Regions from separate parts of the Homo sapiens genome. Here region 2 is linked to region 1. Evidence: fine-mapped expression QTL. A gene starts in region 1. The other region holds a variant in brackets. All regions are shown on one strand. Distances are from middle to middle. Region 1 holds the start of OXCT2 (3-oxoacid CoA-transferase 2). Region 2 overlaps BMP8A (bone morphogenetic protein 8a).

Region 1 (8,000 bases):
GCAACTACAGCCTTTGTTTGATTGGCAGGCCAGCCCCTGCCACGGGGCCCTGCTGCCCATCTCACTTCCAGCCTGGCCTCTACCCTCACCTCCACTGTGTCTTCTAATTCCCCTCCACCCACGCCGCCTCCCTGCTGCCCCCGTCCCCTGTGCTTCCCACTGGCCAGAGGCGCAGCCCAGGCTCCTGGCCCGGGATTCGCACCCTCAGCAGGCAGGCCGCAGCAGAGCTCATGTGCCGTCCCCAACATCGCTGACCTGTGGGCGCCTCCACCCTGTGCATGCGAGGTCCCCTCTCCCTAGAGCACCCTCCCTGCCACCTTCTCCACCTACCAAGACCCATCCCACCCTTCAAAGCCAGTTCAGATGCCACCTGCTCAGATCCCATCACCCAGTGAGACCCTCCGACTTCCCCAGCACCTGACTGGCCTCTCTGGGAGTTGTCACTCCTGCCCTGGTTTTTCTTGTTCCTTTCCACGTTTCCCTCCTTCCTCTTCCAGCTTGTTCCAGAAAGGAAACGTGGGTCTCCTGCCCTCTGCTGTTTCCTGGTGCTTGCTTTCCCTGCCCTGCCCTCAGACCCCTCTGCTCTGGCCCTCTGCCTTGGCTGGCCGGCCCCTGCAGGGCCCGTCTCCCTGACACCATGGCAGATTCGCACTCATGCCTCAGCCCAGCTCAGCTGTCAGCCCTGAGCCCTCCCCTGCCGCACCTCCCATCCAGGCAGTGGGCAGGCTCTGGATGCCTTGTGTCCCCTGAGATGCCGTCAGTTATGTCGGTTATGTTCCTGTCTACCAGGTTTCCCTGCAGGGCTGGGGCCCTTTTCTGCCTTGGGTCCAATGTCCATCTTCCCTTTAGCCTGGAAGTTCCCAGAGGAGGCTCCCTCCTCTGTCTCATCTCTGAGTCCCAGGACCAGCCGGGCCGAGAAGGGGGCGCAACGGGAGTTCAGGGTTTGGAGCCTGGGGCCTGCTGAGCACCAGCCAGCTGCGGGGCTCAGGGTGAGCCTGGCTGCAGGGCCTCTTGGCCCTGTCTACACCCCGGGACCAAGCCTGGAACAAACGTTTGCACTAAATGAAGCCGGCCCCACCCAGGCCTCCCTGGGTCCGCTCCACCTTGAGTGGTGGGTGGCTGGGGGCGGTGGCTCACACCAGCTCTGCCCCCTCCAGAGCCCGAGCCATTCTGAGTGCCAGCCCAGCGCTGCTTTGTCTTCTAGTGGAGCGAGACCGTGCCCTGGGCCACCAGGAGCCCCATTGGAAGGAGTTCCGCTTTGACCTGACCCAGATCCCGGCTGGGGAGGCGGTCACAGCTGCGGAGTTCCGGATTTACAAGGTGCCCAGCATCCACCTGCTCAACAGGACCCTCCACGTCAGCATGTTCCAGGTGGTCCAGGAGCAGTCCAACAGGTGCCTTCCCCTTGGCCCGGGTGCCCCACCTAACCCCCCACCTCACAGTCTCATGGTCAAGGCAGCCCAGCAGGGAGTCGTGGTGGGCTGAAAGAGAGCCTCAAAGATGGGAAGGATGCTTGGCCCGAGGCCCCTGCACTGTGGGAAGAGCCCCAGTGACAATCCTGACTTCAAGTCCCTGCCCTGCCATCCTGGCTGTGGGGACTTGGACAGGTCACTGAGACTCAGTTTCCCCATGTGTACACCTCTGTGGGCTGAGGCAATGAGATGAGGCTCAGAAGGGGCGCAGCCAGAGTCAGGTGGGAGACACTCCGGTGACAGCCCCCAGCGGGCCCTGGAGACACGGAGGCAGCTGTGCCGGCCGCCGGTTAATTGTTCTTTCATGTCCACAGGGAGTCTGACTTGTTCTTTTTGGATCTTCAGACGCTCCGAGCTGGAGACGAGGGCTGGCTGGTGCTGGATGTCACAGCAGCCAGTGACTGCTGGTTGCTGAAGCGTCACAAGGACCTGGGACTCCGCCTCTATGTGGAGACTGAGGACGGTGAGGCTGGGGGCTCTGCAGCCCCTGGGGCTTCTCTGTGCCAGCACAGGCAGCGGTAGTGGCTTCCTGTGGCCCTGGGTGCCCGGCCTCACCAGCTGTGCCCGCTGCAAGGGTCACTGAGGTCCAGGGCACGAGGTCTGGCCTAGTGGGGGTGCTCCCTCCTCTCCCTCTGCTTCCCAGGAAGCAGGCGGCTCTTCCCACGGAGCAGCCTCCACCTTGGGAGTTTCTGTCCTGGGAAGGGAAGGAGGGGAAGTGGCTGTACCCTCAGGCACTGAGGCCAGGAGGCTGGGTTTGAAGCCCAGCTTGGCAGTGCCCTGCCTCAGTGACCTTGGCTGGGACTTACCTTTCCAGACCCCGTCTTCTCTTCCGCAGGATGGGGATTCACGCCCTTGTTCATTCCACAGGTGACACTGGGGAGAGCCTCTTTTATGCCAGGCAGTAGGAATACAGAGGCCAAAGTGGGCACGAGATGGGTGTGTTTGAGGCCCGGCAAGGGGGCGCCATGGAGCAGCGGTGAGGGCGGGGGACCCAGGGGCCATTCTGAGTCAGAGTAAACCAGGGCCAGGTGCTGGGGTTCTTAGCGTCATTTATTTTATTTACTAGCAGTGGAGGACGACAGGATCTGATTCAGGTTTTAAAAGAGAACCCTCTGAGATGCCCCCCTCTCGGGGTGGAGCAGAGCTCCCCACCCCTTCCGTGGGCTGCACCCAGTGACTTGCTTCCCGAAAGTGCGGTGTGGACAGGGCGTGGGGGACCTGACGCGCAGCGCCTCAGCCAGGTGAGGAAGGCTCACTGCAGTGACCGGCACGGTGCTAGCATGTGCCCTGGGTGAAAGGGAAGGAGAAGGCCACTGAGCCTCAGAGGGCCCCCTCCGTGAACCCAAAACCCCAGTCCAGCCACGAGAAAACCGTCAAACAAACCCAAAGAGAAGGGCTTTCCGCAGAATACCTGACAAGCGCTTCTCAAAACCGCCAAGCTCATCAAAAAAAAGGGAAGGTTGGGAAATTGGAGGAGCCCAGAGGCACCTAAGAAGACCAGCTCAGTGCATGTGGGGTCCTGGGTTGAGTCCTGGACCAGCAAAAGGTCATTAGGGAGAAGTTATGAAATCCAGATCGATCATGGTGTTTACTTAATAATAAGGTATCAGTATTGGTTCATTAGTTATGAGAAAGGTACCCTGCTAGTGTAAAATATTAGCATTTCCCAGAGGAAACTGGGTCCAGGTGTATGGGAACTCCTTGTGTAGTTTTTTTTTCTTTGAGACAGGGTTTGGCTCTGTTGCTCAGGCTGGAGTGCAGTGGCGCAATCACAGCTGACGGTAACCTCCAACTCCTGGGCGCGAGCGATCCTCCCACCTTAGCCTCTGTACTATCTTTACAAAGTTTTATGTAACTATCAACTGTTGTAAAATTAAAACTTAATATATGCATAAAATAAAGAACCCCCTGACTTCAGTGGAGAGAGCAGACTGAGATGGACAAGAGTGAAGTCAGAGAGACGTGTGGGGGCCCCACAGTGGTCCAGGTGGGCGCTGTGAGCGACTTGTTGGTAGCAGTGGAGATGGAGAAAGATGAGTCGATTTCAGTGTCAGGACATGCTTATAGCTGGCGAGGAGGTGAGGGAACAGGAGGAAGCCTGAATGATGTGTGGTTGGAGCCAGTGGATTTTTTTCAATAGATTTTTCTTTTTGGGGAAAAGATAGATGAAGGGCAGGTTTGAGGTGGGTGGCCAAGGGTTCTCTTTTGGCTGGAATATTACTGACCCCCCTGGGATGTTACTGAGATCACTGGTCCTCATGGAAATGCCATTACAGGGACCGGTGAGTGTGAAGACCCAGGCGAGGGAGGTGCTGGCATGTAAGTGGATTTAAAGCATGGGATGGGACCAGGTCATCTAGGGAAGGAGGGTAGTGATGGAGAAGAAAGAGGGCCTGGCCCAGAGCCCTGGGACCTCCAACATCCAGAGACCTCACAAGGAGGGGCCACAGAGAGCCCACAGAGACCAGCCAGGGAGGGAGCAGGACACCTGGAGGATGAGGTGATCTAGACGCCAGAGTAAAGTGTTTCCAGAAGCAAGGGTTTGTCATTTGTGTCCTGCTGTGGGCACTGAAGGCAAGAACAGAGAAGTGACCAAGGGTTTTGCCATCACAGAGGTTGTTGATGACCTAAATATCCGTGGAGTGTGGGTCTGACTGAGGAGGTGGAGGGAGACAGGCAGTGGAGGCAGGAGACAGCTCTTTCCAGAACCTTTGCTGGGGAAGGGGAGCAGAGACATGGGCTGGGGCTGGAGAGAACCCGGGACAAGGCAGGTCCTTTCCAGGTGAGGAGACGCCTGCACGCTGCTGTGGTGATGCAGTGATTCTGTGCAGAGGGAAGAAAACTGCAAAATTCCGCACAAGTTGGAGCAGGGAGCTGGAGTGGGGGAGGTGGAGAGGGCGGGGGGATGCAGAGGACAAGACGGGGGGCCTCTTCAGAGCAGGGACCCTTCCTGATGGAGGTGAGGGATACTGTCCCCACTGTCGCAGTGAGGGGTGAACCTGAGCTCTGGGAGGCTGTAGTGGGGCAGGCACTCACTCTCCGGGTTGTCACAGGATTAAAGGAGGGTGCTTGGCACAGAGTGATGCCCAGTGAAGGTGTTCATGAGCGTCGGTGTCACCCAGCGGCGCCTGCTCATTGGACACTTGGTGTCTTTAATGAGCTGGGGAAGCTGGGGGGAAGCTTGGGCGGGGTGGTTGGAGTTTGTGTCTGAGGCTCCACTGGGGCAGGAGGGGACCTAGCCTGTGCCCTTCTCGCGGAGCCTGACCTCAGCTCTGTCCTGCGCCCGGGCCTGTGCGCTGGACACGGAGGACTGACTCGGGGGCCCCCAGCCCAGGGCGGAGCCGGCCCCCTCCCTGTTGCGGGTCGCGGGCCTAGCCTAGAGCCTGCGCCTGGCCGGGGAGACCTGCTGGGAGGGAGTGCGTCAGGGCGCGGGCGCCCGCCCTGCTCTGTGACGCGCGGCCCGAGGCGCACGCAGGGCTCACACCACCTGTCCTGGCCTCCGACCCGGGCCGACTATGGCGGCGCTGCGGCTCCTGGCGTCAGTGCTCGGGCGCGGGGTCCCCGCCGGCGGCTCAGGGCTCGCGCTGTCCCAGGGCTGCGCCCGCTGCTTTGCCACCAGTCCCCGGCTCCGTGCCAAGTTCTACGCGGACCCGGTGGAGATGGTGAAGGACATCTCTGACGGGGCGACCGTCATGATCGGGGGCTTCGGGCTCTGCGGGATCCCCGAGAACCTGATCGCCGCGCTGCTCAGGACCCGCGTGAAAGACCTGCAGGTGGTCAGCAGCAACGTGGGCGTGGAGGACTTCGGCCTGGGCCTCCTGCTGGCCGCCAGGCAGGTCCGTCGCATCGTCTGTTCCTACGTGGGCGAGAACACCCTGTGCGAGAGCCAGTACCTGGCAGGAGAGCTGGAGCTGGAGCTCACGCCCCAGGGCACCCTGGCCGAGCGCATCCGCGCGGGGGGCGCCGGGGTGCCCGCCTTCTACACCCCCACGGGCTACGGGACCCTGGTCCAGGAAGGGGGCGCCCCCATCCGCTACACCCCGGACGGCCACCTGGCGCTCATGAGCCAGCCCCGAGAGGTGAGGGAGTTCAACGGCGACCACTTCCTTTTGGAGCGCGCCATCCGGGCAGACTTCGCCCTGGTGAAAGGGTGGAAGGCCGACCGGGCAGGAAACGTGGTCTTCAGGAGAAGCGCCCGCAATTTCAACGTGCCCATGTGCAAAGCTGCAGACGTCACGGCGGTGGAGGTGGAAGAGATCGTGGAGGTGGGGGCTTTCCCCCCAGAAGACATCCACGTTCCTAACATTTATGTAGATCGCGTGATAAAGGGGCAGAAATACGAGAAACGAATTGAGCGCTTAACGATCCTGAAAGAGGAAGATGGAGACGCTGGAAAGGAAGAGGACGCCAGGACGCGCATCATCAGACGCGCAGCTCTGGAATTTGAGGACGGCATGTACGCCAATCTGGGCATAGGCATCCCCCTGCTGGCCAGCAACTTCATCAGTCCCAGCATGACTGTCCATCTTCACAGTGAGAACGGGATCCTGGGCCTGGGCCCGTTTCCCACGGAAGATGAGGTGGATGCCGACCTCATCAATGCAGGCAAGCAGACGGTCACGGTGCTTCCCGGGGGCTGCTTCTTCGCCAGCGACGACTCCTTCGCCATGATCCGAGGGGGACACATCCAACTAACCATGCTTGGAGCCATGCAGGTTTCCAAATACGGCGACCTGGCGAACTGGATGATCCCTGGCAAGAAGGTGAAAGGCATGGGCGGTGCCATGGACTTGGTGTCCAGTCAGAAGACCAGAGTGGTGGTCACCATGCAGCACTGCACAAAGGACAACACCCCCAAGATCATGGAGAAATGCACCATGCCGCTGACCGGGAAGCGGTGCGTGGACCGCATCATCACCGAGAAGGCCGTGTTTGACGTGCACAGGAAGAAAGAGCTGACGCTGAGGGAGCTCTGGGAGGGCCTGACGGTGGACGACATCAAAAAGAGCACGGGGTGTGCCTTTGCTGTGTCCCCGAACCTCAGGCCCATGCAGCAGGTGGCACCCTGACGGGACCTGGATCTGGGCGGGGTGGTGCGCTCCTCAGGGCGGGTGCCACCGGGTTCCCCAGGGGAATACATGTCCCCAGCTCTGGGAGGGGTTTGCTACTGGCCTCCTACTTTCCTCCCTAGGTGGACAGTGCTCCTCTAGAGAGCTGCGACTTTAATTAAAAACAACAGGAAAACAGATCAGTTCCTCACTGTGTTTCTCGAGCACTGCAAGGCGCAGGTCTGCAGTGGTGAGGAATGGATGTCCGCTTTGCTCTGTGATGTTTACACAGAGCGTGCACAGCTCAGTGCATTCACAGCAAGATTTGATTCAAGCGCCTCCCTCGTACTTGAACCATGAAATGGAGATAAAAACTGACGAGGGAGAAAATCACTCAACCCAGAGTACACCTGAAGGGACATTTTACTACTGCAGTGAGAAATAGGCGAGCAAAGATGTGAGTTTGTGATTGGAAGACATGCTATCTTCACGAGCTTGTTTTTTCTTTTTCCTTCTCTTTCTTTTTTCTTTTTTTTGAGGCAGGGTCTGGCTCTGTCGCTCAGGCTGGAATGCAATGGAATGCAGTGATCTCACTGCAACCTCTGCCTCCTGGGCTCAAGCAATCCTAATTCAGCCTCCTGAGTAGCTGGGACTACAGGCGCACATCACAATGCCTGCTTATTTTTTTTTATTTTTTAAATTTATTTATAGAAATGGAGTTTCACCATGTTGCCCAGGCTGGTCTTGGACACTTGAGCTCAAGCGATCCACTTGCCTCAGCCTCCCAAAGTGCTGGGATTACAGACATGAGCCACTGAGTTGGGCCAATTAACCTTAGCTTACTGTAATTTTTTTTCTTTTTTAGACAGAATCTCGCTCTGTTACCTAGGCTAGAGTACAGTGGTCCAGTCTCAGCTCACTGCAACCCCTGCTTCCTGGGTTCAAGCAATTCTCATGTCTCAGCCTCTCAAGTAGCTGGGATTACAGGCATGTGCCACCATGCCTAGCTAATTTTTGTATATATATTTTTAACAGTAGAGATAGGGTTTCTCCATATTGGCCAGGCTGGTCTCAAACTCTGGGCCTCAGGTGATCCACCTGCCTTGGCCTCCCAAAGTACAGGCTTGAGCCATTGCACCCAGCCTTCTTGAACGTTTTTATCCGTTATCTGGTATTTCTTCTGGGGCCTTTGTTGTTAAATTTTGTTTCCCTGAAGCCTCCCCTCCTCCTCCCACATCTCTCCTCCTGGGACCTATGAGATGTTAAGCTTCTAGATGTCCGTAGAAGGAAAGCAGGACCATCTCCAAGGGAAGGGACCGGGTGATGGGAGAGACTGAGAGGGGAGAGGCTGCCGGTGCTGAAATCCACCAGGAAGCTTCCTCTGTGTGTGGCCAAAGGCTACAGCCTAGGACAGGAGGAGTTCTAGAACCCTAACCAAGGGACTAGATGAGTTTTCTCAGCTTCATTTGAATTGTTCCTG
Region 2 (13,356 bases), 240 kb after region 1:
TAAGTGGAATCATACAATATGTAGGCTTTTGTGAGTGTCTTCTTTCACTTAGCATAATGTTTTCAAGGTTCATCCATGTTGTAGCATGTATCAGTACATCATTCCTTTTTTTTCTTTTTGTTTTGGTTTTTGGTTTTTTTTTTTTTTTTTTTTTTTGAGATGGAGTCTCACTTTGTCACCCAGGCTGGATTGCAGTGGTGCAGTCTCGGCTCACTGCAAGCTCCGCCTCCTGGGTTCACACCATTCTCCTGCCTCAGCCTCCCAGCTGGGACCACAGGCACCCGCCACCACGCCTGGCTAATTTTTTGTATTTTTAGTAGAGATGGGGTTTCACCGTGTTAGCCAGGATGGTCTCGATCTCCTGACCTCGTGATCTGCCCACCTTGGCCTCCCAAAATGTTGGGATTACAGGCGTGAGCCACCGCCTCCGGCCCCATCATTCCTTTTTATTGCCAATTAATACCCACTGTCTGCACCCCACATTTGTTTATCCATTCATAAGTTGATAGATTGTTTCTACTTTTTGGCTATTACAAATAATGCCACTGTGAACATTCACATACAAATTTTTGTGTAGACATATGTTTTCATTTCTCTTAGATGTAGCCATAGAATTGGAAATGCTGGGTTATATAACTATTTATTTATTTTTTTTTGAGACAGAATTTCACTCTAGAGTGCAGTGGCACAATCTCGGCTCACTGCAACCTCCACCTCCCTGGTTCAAGAGATTCTCCTGCCTCAGCCTCCCCTAGCTAGGATTACAGGCATGCACCTCCATACTCGGCTAATTTTTGTATTTTTAGTAGAGACGGAGCTTTGCCATGATGGCCAGCTGGTCTCGAATTCCTGGCCTCAAGTGATCTGCACAAAGTGCTGAGATTACAGGCATGAGCCACCGTGTCTGGCTGATAACTATTTTTAATGTTTTGAGAAACGACCAGACTGTTTGAAGTGGCTGTACCATTTTGCATTCTTTTTTTTTTTTTGAGATGGAGTCTCACTCTGTTGCCCAGGCTGGAGTGCAGTGGCGCAATCTCAGCCCACTGCAAGCTCCGCCTCCCGGGTTCACGCCATTCTCCTGCCTCAGCCTCCCGAGTAGCTGGGACTACAGGCGCCTACCACCACGCCTGGCTAATTTTTTTGTATTTTTAGTAGAGACATGGTTTCACCGTGTTAGCCAGGATGGTCTTGATCTCCTGACCTTGTGATCCGCCCGCCTTGGCCTCCCAACGTGCTGGGATTACAGGCATGAGCCACTGCCCCATTTTGCATTCTTAACGGCAGTGTATGATGTTTCTGATGCCTCTATACCCTCACCAACACTTGTGATTATCCTTCTTTTTTTATTAGACCTATCCTAGTGATGTGAAGTGGTATCTCATTGTGGTTTTGATTGGCATTTCCGTGCTAGTTAATGATGTTGAGCATCTTTTCATGTGTTTATTGGCCTTCTCTATATCTTCTTTGGAAAAATGTCTCTTCAGACCCTTTACCAATTTTTAATTGGATTATTTGTCTTTCTATTGTTGAGTAAGAATTCTTTTGTTTTTTGTTTTTTGAGACAGGTTCTCACTCTGTCACCCAGCCTGGAGTGCAGTGATGTGATCACAGCTCACTGCAGCCTTGACCCTCTGGGCCCAAGTGATCCACCTGTCTCAGCCTTTCAAGTAGCTGGGACTACAGGTGCATGCCACCAGGCCCAGCTAATTTTATTTTTTGTAGAGACAGGGTCTCCCTGTGTTGCCCAGGCTTGCCTCAAGTGATCCGCCTGCCTTCACTTCTCAAAGTGCTGGGATTATAGGCATGAGTCACCACACCTGACCAAATATAGTCAAGAGTCCTTCTTTTTTTATTTTTGTAGTGACGGGGTCTTGCTCTGTTGACCAGACTGGAGTGCAGTGGCACAGTCACAGCTTGCTGTGGCCTCAAATTCCTGGGCTCAAGTGATCCCTCTGTCTCAGACTCCTAAGTAGCTGGAACTACAGGCATGCACCACAATGCCTGGCTAATTTTTTCTTATTTTTTGTAGAGATGGGGCTCTCACTTCGTTCCCCAGGCTGGTCCCAAACTCCTAGCCTCAAGTGATCCACCCGCCTCAGCCTCCCAAAGTACTGGGATTACAGGCGTGAGCCACTGCGCCCGGCCTTTTCTTTCATTCTATAGGTTGTCTTTTCACTTTTTTGATGGCGTCGTTTGAAGCACAAAATATTTTAATTTTGATAAAGTCTAATTTATCTTTTTTTGTCACTTGTACTTTTGGTGTAGTGATTATGAAGATTTACTCCTACACTTTCTATTAAGTATTTTATGGTTTTCTCTCTTACACTGAAGTCTTTACTCCATTTGAAGTTAATTTTTGTGTATAGTGTGAGGAAAGTGGTCCAGCGTTACTCTTTTACATGTGGATTTTCAGTCGTCCTAGCACCATTTGTTGAAAAGGCTAGTTTTTTTCCTGTTTAATTGTCTTGGTATCCTTGGTGAATATAGTTGACCATAAATGTAAGGGTTTCTTCTGGATTCTAAATTATATTTTGTTGATCTGTATGTCTGTTATTAGGCCATTACTACTGTGTCTTAAATTCCATAGCTTTGTAGTAAATTTTTAATTCTGGAAATGCGAGTCCTCCAACTTTGTTTTTCCTTTCAAGATTGTTTTGGTTATCCTGAGTCTCTTACATTTCTTAAGAATTTTGGGATAAGCTTATCAACTCGTATGAAAAAAGCCAGCTAGGATTTTAATACAGATTGCACTGAATGTGAAGAATTTAGGAGTATCATCATCTTAACAATATTAAGTCTTCTGATCCATGAACACAGGATATCTTTTCATTTGTTTAGGTCTTCTTCAGTGTTTTTCAGTAATGTTCTTTGGTTTTCTTTTTTTTTTTTTTTTAATTGGGATGGGGTCTTGCTATGTTATCTAGGCTGGTCTCGAACTCCAGGGCTCAAGCAATCCTGCCACCTTGTCCTCCCAAAATGCTGGGATTATAGATGTAAGCCACCATGCCTAGCGAGTCAGAATTCTTTAAATATTTTAGATACAGGTCTCTTATCAGATGTATAATTTGCAAATAGTTTCTCTCATTCTTTTTTTTTTTTTTTTAGACAGGGTCTCACTGTATTGCCCAGGCTGGAGTGCAGTGGTGCAATCACAGCTCACCACAGTCTTGGAACTCCTGTACCCAAGTGGTCCTTATGTTTCAGCTTTACAACTAGTTGGAACTATAGGCACACACCACCACACCTGGCTAATTTTAAAAAATATTTTTGTAGACAGCTGTGACTGCACCATTGCACTCCAGCCTGGACAACAGAGCAAGACTCTTCTAAAAAAAATACACACACATATATATATAGCAATTATATTTCTTTTCTTATTTTTGAGACAGAGTCTTGCTATGTCGCCCAGGCTGGAGTGCAGTGGCAGCATCTCAGCTCACTGCAAGCTCCACCTCCCGGGTCCACGCCATTCTCCTGCCTCAGCCTCCTGAGTAGCTGGGACTACAGGCGCCCGCCACCACGCCGAGCTAATTTTTTGTATTTTTAGTAGAGATAGGGTTTCACCATGTTAGCCAGGATGGTCTCGATCTCCTGACCTTGTGATCTGCCCGCCTCGGCCTCCCAAAGTGTTGGGATTACGGGTGTGAGCCACCGTGCCTGGCCGTAGATATAGCAATTATATTTCTATACATCAGCAATGAACAACCTGAAAACAGAATAAAAAGAAAAACAATTATACTTACAATAGCATAAAAAAGAATAAAATATTTAGGAATAAGTTTAAAAGATGTATACAGCTTATACTTTGAAAACCACAAAACAGGCCAGGCATGGTGGTTCACACTCATAATCCCAGCACGTTGGGAGACTGAAGTGGGAAAATCACTTGAGTCCAGGAGTCTGAGACCAGCCCGAGTCAACATAATGAGACCTCATCTCTACAAAAATATATATAATCAATTGTATATTGATTTTGTATTCTGCAACATTGCTAAACTTGTTTAATAGTTCTTTTTTTTTTCTTTTTTTGAGATGGAGTCTCACTCTGTCGCCCAGGCTGGAGTGCGGTGGCACGATCTCAGCTCACTGCAACCTCCACCTCCCAGGTTCACGCCATTTTCCTGCCTCAGCCTCCTGAGTAGCTGGGACTACAGGCGCCCGCCACCACGCCTGGCTAATTTTTTGTATTTTTAGTAGAGATGGGGTTTCACCGTGTTAGCCAGGATGGTCTCAATTTCCTGACCTTGTGATCCGCGCACCTTGGCCTCCCAAAGTGCTGGGGTTACAGGCGTGAGCCACCATGCCCGGCCTGTTTATTAGTTCTAATAGTTTTTTTTGTGGATTTTTTAGGATTTTCTATATGCAAGAGTGTGTCATCTGCAAATAGAAATAGCTTTACATTTTCCTTGCCGATTGGATGCCTTTCATTTCATTTTTTTCACCTAATTACCCTGGCTAGAACCTTCAGTACAATGTTGAATAGAAGTGTCAAGGGCAGATATCCTCGTCTTGTTCCTGACCTTAGGGGGAAAGCATCTTGTCTTTCACATGTAGTTTTCTGTTGATACCTTTTATCAGATTGAGAAAGTTCCCCCTTCCACTCCTAGTTTATTGAGTTTTCATTATGAAAAGGTGTTGGATTTTGTCTACTGCTTTTTCTGTATCTGAGATGATTATGTGGTTTTTGTTCTTTATACTATTGATAATTGTCTATTACATTGATTGATTTTTAGATGTTAAACCAACTTTGCATTCCTGAGATGAATCCACATCTTTTTTGGGTGGCTGTATTTCACTAGATTGTGAGCTCCACCACTGTTAGGGCCAGTGTCCCCAGGGGGCAGGTAGGGGTGGATGTCCCTAAAGTCTGTCTTTATTCTGCTCCTTCACTCCCCTGAGTGTCCCCTCTTCTATTCTGTCTGCAAAGGCAAGGATGGGAAGCCAAGGCAGAAGGTGATCATTGGCAACTGTGGGGAGTATGTGTGAGGCGGCACTCTCTCTGCTCTCCACTCTGCTCTTGCCCCTGCACATCCAGGAAGGAGCTGCCAGCCTCAGAGGAGGCAGCACCGAGGGTGCCCTATTTGAAGCAAGCAGGATTTGTGGCATGAGGCCCACCTTAGGGTCAGCTTGGAGCACCTCTGTAGGCACAGCCTGGACTGTTCCCAAGTGCAGCTGTGGGCCCACGAACCAGCACAGGTGCTCCTTCTCCAACCACCACTTTTCTCGGCATTTGCTGCTGGGTCTGCTGTGGGCCCACCAATGTGGCTCCTGGATGTTTTGTTCTCTTTGGTTTGCTAAAATAAATTCTAGTTCTTATACTGCTGCCTGCCAGCCAGGTCCCAGGTGTTTTCAGAGGTTGCTGCTGGGACAGGCCATAGCATCTCGGCTGCTGCTCTTCTCTCTTAGGCCAAGTCCCTTAGGAGATGCCCTCGGCAGCCCATTGTGGGGCAGTAGAAGTCAAAGCCATGTAAAAGTGCCTGTGTCTTTTCTTTCTGGTCAGTTACCATTCCTGCTCTCACACCAGCTGGTCTTGTGCCTGATGGACATTTGTAATCAGTCTCACTGACCTGGCACTCATTATGCACTTCCTGAACCAACAGAACTGTATTACCGAGGAGCACACAGGGCGCTTCTTTAGTCAGCGGATGTGCTTGGTGCTGGGGAGAAACAAGCCAGGGGTGGCTCCTACTTCCTCCTCCCCAACCCCAGGCCTACCTGGAAACTGCAGTGTGGTGTCATGGTGCGCAGCCTGTGCTAGGATGGCCTCTCACCCTGCACCGATTTTGGGCCAGCCAGGCCACCTCATGGCCTCTTTCAGGTGTTGAAACTGAGCCCTATCAGTCTCCAGAAACCTCCCCCAGGGCTGCCCACTGGCTCCCATGACATGTCCTAGGAGCTCTGTCTGAATCAAGCCTTTTTTTTTTTTTTTTTTTTTTGAGATGGAGTTTTGCTTTTGTCACTCAGGCTGGAGCATGATCTCAGCTCACTACAACCTCTGCCTCCCAGGTTCAAGCAATTCTGCCTCAGCCTCCCAAGTAGCTGGGATTATAGGCACCCGCCACCATGCCCAGCTAATTTTTGTATTTTCAGTAGAGATGGGGGTTTCGCCATGTTGGCCAGGCTGGTCTTAAACTCCTGACCTCAGGTGATCCACCTGCCTTGGCCTCCCAGAATGCTGGCTGAATCAAGTCTTGATGTTGAGTATCCACCAGGGTGAGGGTGGTGGGGAAAGGAGAAGCCTATTGCCCTGGCCCCAGTGACCCCAAGCCAGCTCCACCTCTGGCACCCTGGGTGGGGCTTCTCCCCGCTTGATCAGCTTGGGCCTGCAGCTTTCCCAGCAGGCACTCTCACTCCTCAATGTCGGTGTCATTACTGGTGGTCAGTCATGGCCGTCAGGACAGGCAGCATTGAGGCCAGGATAAGGCAGCTACTCAGGGCTGCCATGAAGCCCAGGAGAGAAGAGGATGTGTGTGAATTGCTCAACACTGTGGGTTCTGGGGGTGACAGGCAGGCTGGCCCGAGGCCCCGGGAGGGAGAACTGGTCCCACAACCCTGTGAAACAAGGGAGGACCTTATTGCTGTGCTTGCCTGATTACCCTGGGAAGGAGGGACCAAGGGACCAGCCAGAGGCCAGTGGGAGAGGAACCATCAGGGTTTCCCCGGAAGTTATCCCAGTGGGTCCATCTGTGACCCTTGTACTCTGAGGTCACCTAAGCCTCAGAGGTGAGGCACCTGCCCCTGCTTGTGCCAATTGCTGCACAGAGAAGGAGAGGAGGTTCTTGGCCCAGGGATTCCAGACCCATGGCCAGCCTCGTGGCCATGCGATCTCAGCACTAGGCTGCCTGCCACCCTGGTCACAGGAGCCCCATCCCGGCCTCTGAGGAAGGGAACGCAAGACCAGACATACAAGGGAGAAGCTAAAGCAGAACTGAAGGGATGGAAGGCTGCTAAAAGTTATGTTTTCAAAGAACATTTAATCACAGAAACTTTCAAAATATTTTGTACATTGAATAGATCCGATCACCAAGCAGTGCATAGAGTAGGATCCTAACTTTGTAAAATATCCATATGTCATATATAAAGAAAGACAAATGTATATGTGCCAAGTAAGAAGACTGGAAGGAATTATGAACAGTGGTTATCTCTGTGATTGATTATGGGTGTTTGTATTCTGGTTTTTGTTATTTTCAAAATTTTCCCCAGCACACAGATAACATTTTCTTACGTGAGAAAAAATTTTTTTTAAAAAGCAGGGGGTGGAGAGCGGCAACTGTTTGCTCAAGACTTTTCAGTAAGGAAAGGAACCTGGGGTAGAAAGCTCCCCCTTCAGCTGCCCATGAGGGCACAGGTGGGCCCCACACTCACTACGGGGCCAGGGCAGGGCC[G/A]CACACCTGCCACTTCCTCAGCAGAGACCCTAGCGCGTGGGTCACTGCTGGCCCAGACTCCTTCCACGAGCAGGCGAGTGTGCAGGGCCACACCTCATCCAAGAGATGATCACGTTTAGGTTTTTGATGAAAAGCATAGCTCTCAGGTAAATACAGCAGCACCTCTAAGCATATTCTGGGAGGAGTGGGTTTTATGAGGAAGGCACACAAGGAACGCCCAAATTTGCAAGTCCCTTTAAAATGAGCCTGCTCAGAATTGCTGTTTATTCCACAGGTCTGCGCAGGCATGGCACTAAGTGTCCCATGGCACATTTGGCCCTCATGGAGGCCTCAAAAGGGCAGGACCAGCACCCTCTTCTACGGAGGAAGGAACGGGCACAGCAGGTACATGATGTGGTCAAATTAACAAGAGGCAGAGGCCGGGTAAGTGGCTCACGCCTGTAATCCTAGCACTTTGGGAGGCTGAGGCAGGAGGATTGCTTGAGCTCAGGAGTTCAAGACTGGCCTGGGCAAAGTTTAAGACCGGCCTGGGCAACATAGTGAGACCTGGTTTCTATAAAAAATTTAAAAATTAGCTGGGTATGGTGGCGTGTGCCTGTCATCCCAGCAACTCGGGCTGAAGTGGGAGGATTGCTTGAGCCCAGCAGGTTGAGGCTGCAGTGAGCCATGACACTGCCACTGCACTCCAGCCTGGGCGACAAAGCAAGACCATGTATGTCTTTAAAAAAAAAAAAAAAAAGGCAGCCAGGACCTGATGCCAGGTCGACTTGGCTCCAAAACCTGCCCTCTCCTTTTCACAGCCTCCTTTCCTGTGAAATAATAGGGAATTTCTCTAAAGCGCATCGCCCGGTCCCTATGTAAAGACAAAGAAACAGGACTTTGCACGCTCACCTGGCATTAGGGCCAGCACTGTGCTGCAGTTGTGAAGATGGCCACTGGGTTGGGGGTTGTTCTGCACCAAATGGCCCCAGACTCCCTGTCAGTGGCTACTTGTTGCAGCCAGTGGGCCTGAGCTGACCACCCTTATTTATGCTCCTGATGTGCAGCCTTGAATGCATCCTGGGCTGTGGGAGGCAACCAGGCCAGAAGATGACCTTGATAGCTGAGCACTGACCCTTCATCAGCTGTGTGTCCTTACGACCTCCTCCCTTTCTGAGGCCTTCTGTATGTGATGTCATTTGGTGGGTGGCTAAAGTTGCTAGAAGTCTGGCCACCAGGAAGGCCACGACTGTCACACTTTGTGCTTTGCTGCATAAAAAGGGAGTCTCATCATGATCCTCAGGCCTGCTGTGCACACCTGATGGGCATAGCAGCGTTTGCGTCTTGAAAACATTCATTTCACAAACTCCTAGCACACCCAAACCATGCCAGGTTACACACTGGGCACTGAAGAGACCACACATTTGTCAGTTTCCGAAACTCTACTGCCCAGTATTGGAAGAAGAGAGCTGTTAAATCAGGTCCTGCAATGGCAGATAGGCCCCAAGTCCTATGGCAGCAGGGGGCTCAGGCCATGTCTCAAGCTCTGGGAGAAGGTCATGGGGGCAGATGGGTTCTCTGGGTTGGAAGAGCCTTTGGAATTAAAGAGTCCTATGTCCTCATGTTGCAGATGAGAAACTGAAGCGTGAATAAGAAAGGGGACTTGTCCTGACACCAAGTCAGTGGCTGAGTTGGAACCAGAATACCTGTCTCCTAACACTCAGGCCATTGCCTCTTCCAATCTCTGCTAGCTGAGCTTGAAGCCTTAGACTAGTGGGGAACTCACCATCTTCCAGACAGCCTGGGCCCACCCTTTATGTACATGAGAGGGTCTCTTCCTCTGCGCTTGCACATGGAGGCCCTCCCTGGTCCAGGTGGAGGGGCTGCTGTCCCGCAGTGTGGCCCCAGCCTCCACCCCTGCTGCTGGACCAGCTCTCCCCAGGCCCCTCCCTGGGGGTGCAGCACGTGAACTCCAGAGAGGCGCATCCTTGGGCCCATGGGGAGGTGGAACCACTCTGCCAGGCTGTGCCTGTGGATGGGGCGGGCCCAGGATCTGCTTTTAATGACACGGTTTGGGCAGCTGGACTCTGTCTGTTCCAGCAGGTAAATTACAGGCTTAGCAAGTCAGAAATCAAATAAACACTCCAACTCCCAGTGGCTGTTCCAAGGAGAACAGCGGTTTCCGGGAACAGTGGAGGCCGAGACAAACCTCCCCACCCAACTCAGCCTAATTACTGCCTGTCACTCCCTGGGACAGGGACCTTTTCTTTGACTCACAGACCCAAGACACAGGACAGCGCTGGTGGGCACCCAGGGTGACGCCAATTTTGGTGGCCAGCTTGTTCATAACTCCTAGACACAAGCAAACACTGGCAGTCCCCACCCTTGCCCCATGCCTGGCCGGAGACTGCCAGTCACCCTGCTTTGGATGGAATGGATTGCTCTGCAGTGGGGCAGGAGGGGGAACTGAGGTCTTATTGACAATGCCTGGTGGTGGCTGTCTGCAGTTCTGTGCTGAGGCCTGGAGGCCCTGTCCTGGTTCAGTGGGAAAGGTACGTAGGTTGATTACTGACATGAGCCATGGGCAAGGGGAGCAGGCTGCGGGGGCATTTGCTCTGTGCCAGCCTACACTACATGTTGGAGCTGCTGGTCTTGCCTCTGTCTCAGTGCTGAGCCCCAAATGGGTCAGCATGGTAGAGATGGTGGAGGGAACTGGAAGCCCCCAGGATTCTTTGCTCCTGTGGGAGTCATACCTCTTTCCCAGGCAGGAGAAGGGGCAGGCCCAGGGCAAGGGAATACACATGACATAAAATATCCCCAGTGGCCAGGCACGGTGGCTCATGCCTGTCATCCCAACACTTTGGGAGGCCGGGCGGGTGGATCACCTGAGGTCAGGAGTTCAAGACCAGCCTGGCCGATATGGTGAAACCCCGTCTCTACTAAAAATACAAGAATGAGCTGGGCGTGGTGGTGGGCCCCTGTAATCCCAGCTACTCAGGAGGCTGAGGCACGAGAATTGCTTGAACCTGGGAGGCAGAGGTTGCAGTGAGCCAGGATTGCACCACTGCACTCCAGCCTGGGTGACAGAGTGAGACTCTATCTGGAAAAAAAAAAAAAAAATCCCCAGTGGCTTCGTGGGGATGTCCAGCTTATTCTTTTTCTAATATGCTAACTGCACCCTGGACCAAATGAGAAGAATCCCAGAACACACTGTGCTGAGAACATAAGCGTGTCCAATTTTGCCCAGAAATGGCCAGTGTTGTACCTGGGAAGAGGCAGAGCCCTTCTCCTCACACCTAAACCCTCTGGTGAATGGAGAAAAGCTCGGGTCAGCCAACCTCAGACCATCCGGGGCCAGCCACAGTCTGACAGGTCCTAAGATAGGACTTCTGTGCTGACTCCAGACAGTGCAGTCAGCACAGGCTCTGAGGCTGCTGTGTGCCTTAGGCCACCAAAGTGTCGGGCAGAGTGACAGCCACAAACCCCAGGGGAGGGGCACAGAGGTACCGAGAAAGGACCAGAAGCCTGACAGGAAGTAGGCACCGAGAGTGAGGGCCCCTGACACTCCTGCTTGAGCTGTGACAGCATTTAAGGGTTTTCTGCCTCTGCAGGGCCCGATCCAGATGAGAAGGGTGGCTGCAGTAGGGCTGGGCGGGCTGACTCAGTGGCAGCCGCAGGCCTTGACCACCATGTTGCGGTGCTTGCGCAGGATGACGTTGTTGCTGCTGTCATAGTAGAGCACAGAGGTGGCGCTCAGCTTGGTGGGTGCACAGCACGCCTTGGGGACTGCGTTTGGCTTCATCAGGTGCACCTGGCCAGGAAGGGAGCACAGGCAGGGGCATGAGGCCAGTGGCCTCCTCTGAGGACCCACCTAGCCCCGCCCCAGCTCCACCTGCTCCCTGCCCTGGCCATCTCCAAGCCACATGGGAGCAGCACAATAATAAGAATTATTAACAGGAATAAGAGCAGCCCTGAGAGCTCTGGGAGCGGGAGCTGTGGTGGCCCACAGTGCCCAGGGAGGGATACATGGCAGCCCCAGGGTGTGGGGCAGGTGGGCAGGGCACTAATGAGGGGCCTCGAGTCCCAGGCCAAGGGCTCAGACTTCCTCCTGGGGATAATGGGAAGGAGAACCTCATGGCCAGGTTTGTGCCCTTAGTGAGGTCCCCAAGGGGGAACCTGGAAGGACCACTGTCTTCTTATAGCCCTTCAGACCCCCCCAGAGGCTCTGCCTCCCCACACCCTGGCCTCCCTCCCCAGGCTCTGGGAGGCCAGGCCTCGCCCCCTCTCCTGTGCTGCTCCTTCTCCCAGAGGACTGCATCCGCCCTCAGCACTTCAAGGCCCTGCATGTGCCCGCACCTCTCCACTCCCCTGGCTCAGCTTGGACCTCTCTTCTGAACTCCAGACTTGCGGATCCTGCTCCCCTTCCCACTTCTGCACTTGGGGGTCTAATGAGGCCTCAGTGGAACATAGAATTCCTCCCGCCCTGACATCATAGCTCCCGCCTGGGAGGCCTCCTGGATGACTCCTTTCGCCTCCTCCCTTCCCTGAGAGCAGCCCCTGGCTCAACCTCCACCTCCGTGCTGCCTCGGACCACCTGCCCAGTCGAGCTGCCATCACCTGCCAGGTGACCACAGCAGCCCTCACTCATCCCCTGCTCCTCTGCCTTCCACTCCCGCGACCATCAGCCTCCCCAAGCCAGAAAGGTCCTTCTGGAGGGTGACGCAGACCAGGACACTGCTTTGCTGAAGACCTCTGACAGCCTCTGGGGTTGCTTGGAATAAAATCCACCCTCCTTCCCAGGGAACCCCAGGCCCTACGGGAGCTGGCCTGGCTCACCCCGGCATCACCTCCCTCCACTCTCCTCCCCTTCACTGCACCCAGCCCCTCTCCTCCCTGCTGGCCCTGAACTTAGGGCCAGCCTGCTCCTGTCTTAGGGCCTTGCACTTGCTCCTTCTGGAACATTCCTCCTCCAGCTGCTGACGTGCCCCTCCTTGTGTGGAGAGGCTGGGCCCAGTCTCACTCCACTGACGGCACGGCTGCTCTGCTCTTCCTCACAGGAGGTGTCAACTCCACGGTTGGTTTGCTTCTGTGCCCACCGACAGCCTCCCCTAGAGCACAGTGCCTGTTTGCTGCCCTGTAGGCTGTGAGCACTCACTCTAGTTGAGCCCCTGAGGGGCAGGGGCAAGGGCAGAGGAGATGGAGTCCAGGAGCTGCAGGTGCAGTCACCTTCCCATGTACCTCCCACACATGCAGCTGTGAGAACCACACGGCATAAAGGGTGGCTGGGCCAGGCCACCCCACGCGTCCTCATCACCCCTGGGCCTTTCCAAGGAGATGGCTCCAGGTGTCCAGCAAACACCATTTGACTGCCCAGAAAGGAAGTATTATCATAGGCTCAGAGCAGCTTTTGGTAATTTCTTTCCTCTCACACCAAGGCATTGTGTGCGCACGTGTGTGTGTGTGTGTGTGTGTGTGTGTGTTTTAATTTTTATTTTAGAGACAGGGTTTTGCTGTGTTGCTCAGGCTTGTCTTGAACTTCTGGGCTCGTGTGCTGCGATTACAGGGTGAGCCACTGCGCCTGATCAAGGCATCACCGTTGAACCTCCTAAGAGGAAAACATAAGGCTGTGCAATACCAGGAACTGGGATTCTAGGTAAAAACTTCTAGAAGGAAGCCTCGGTGCCAGAATCCGCAAACACACAGAGCACTCAGTGGTGAGCAGCACCAGTGATCCCATCAGAAGCCTGCTTTTGTCCTTTAAGGTTGCCCCAGACACCAAGGCATCAAAAGCCAGGGGATCCAGAGAAAACACAGACAGCCAAGAGAGAAACTGCGGGAAAAAGCCAAAAGGTTGAGAGCCACACCATCTAGAAGCTTCCTGCCTGTGGTGCGGCACAGGTGGGTGAGTGCACACGCACACCCCACACACTGTGCGCACATATCACAGGCGGTCAGACTTGCCAGCGTACTCGGGGGCCCGTGTGTTAAG

What was found.
Region 2: its variant is fine-mapped to the expression of OXCT2 in atrial appendage (GTEx, PIP above 0.99). The same link has a PIP of 0.9 or more in fibroblasts, left ventricle, ovary, stomach, thyroid and tibial artery.

What each region holds. Positions count from the first base shown.
Region 1 is chr1:39,768,243-39,776,242 of GRCh38, reverse strand. OXCT2 (3-oxoacid CoA-transferase 2) reads left to right here and starts at 4,895. Exons shown (of 1, transcript NM_022120.2): 1 at 4,895-6,720. The coding sequence starts at 4,988. The coding sequence ends at 6,541. It overlaps BMP8B (bone morphogenetic protein 8b), which reads left to right. Exons shown (of 7, transcript NM_001720.5): 2 at 1,205-1,394; 3 at 1,787-1,935. RefSeq lists enhancers at 4,176-4,848, 4,849-5,522 and a silencer at 4,863-4,962.
Region 2 is chr1:39,523,471-39,536,826 of GRCh38, reverse strand. BMP8A (bone morphogenetic protein 8a) reads right to left here. Exons shown (of 7, transcript NM_181809.4): 7 at 6,958-11,178. The coding sequence ends at 11,029. It also overlaps the pseudogene PPIEL. Among named protein-coding and RNA genes, the nearest start is that of PABPC4-AS1, 35 kb to the left of the region's middle. RefSeq lists an enhancer at 13,211-13,356. The variant G/A (reference allele first, on the strand shown) is at 7,389.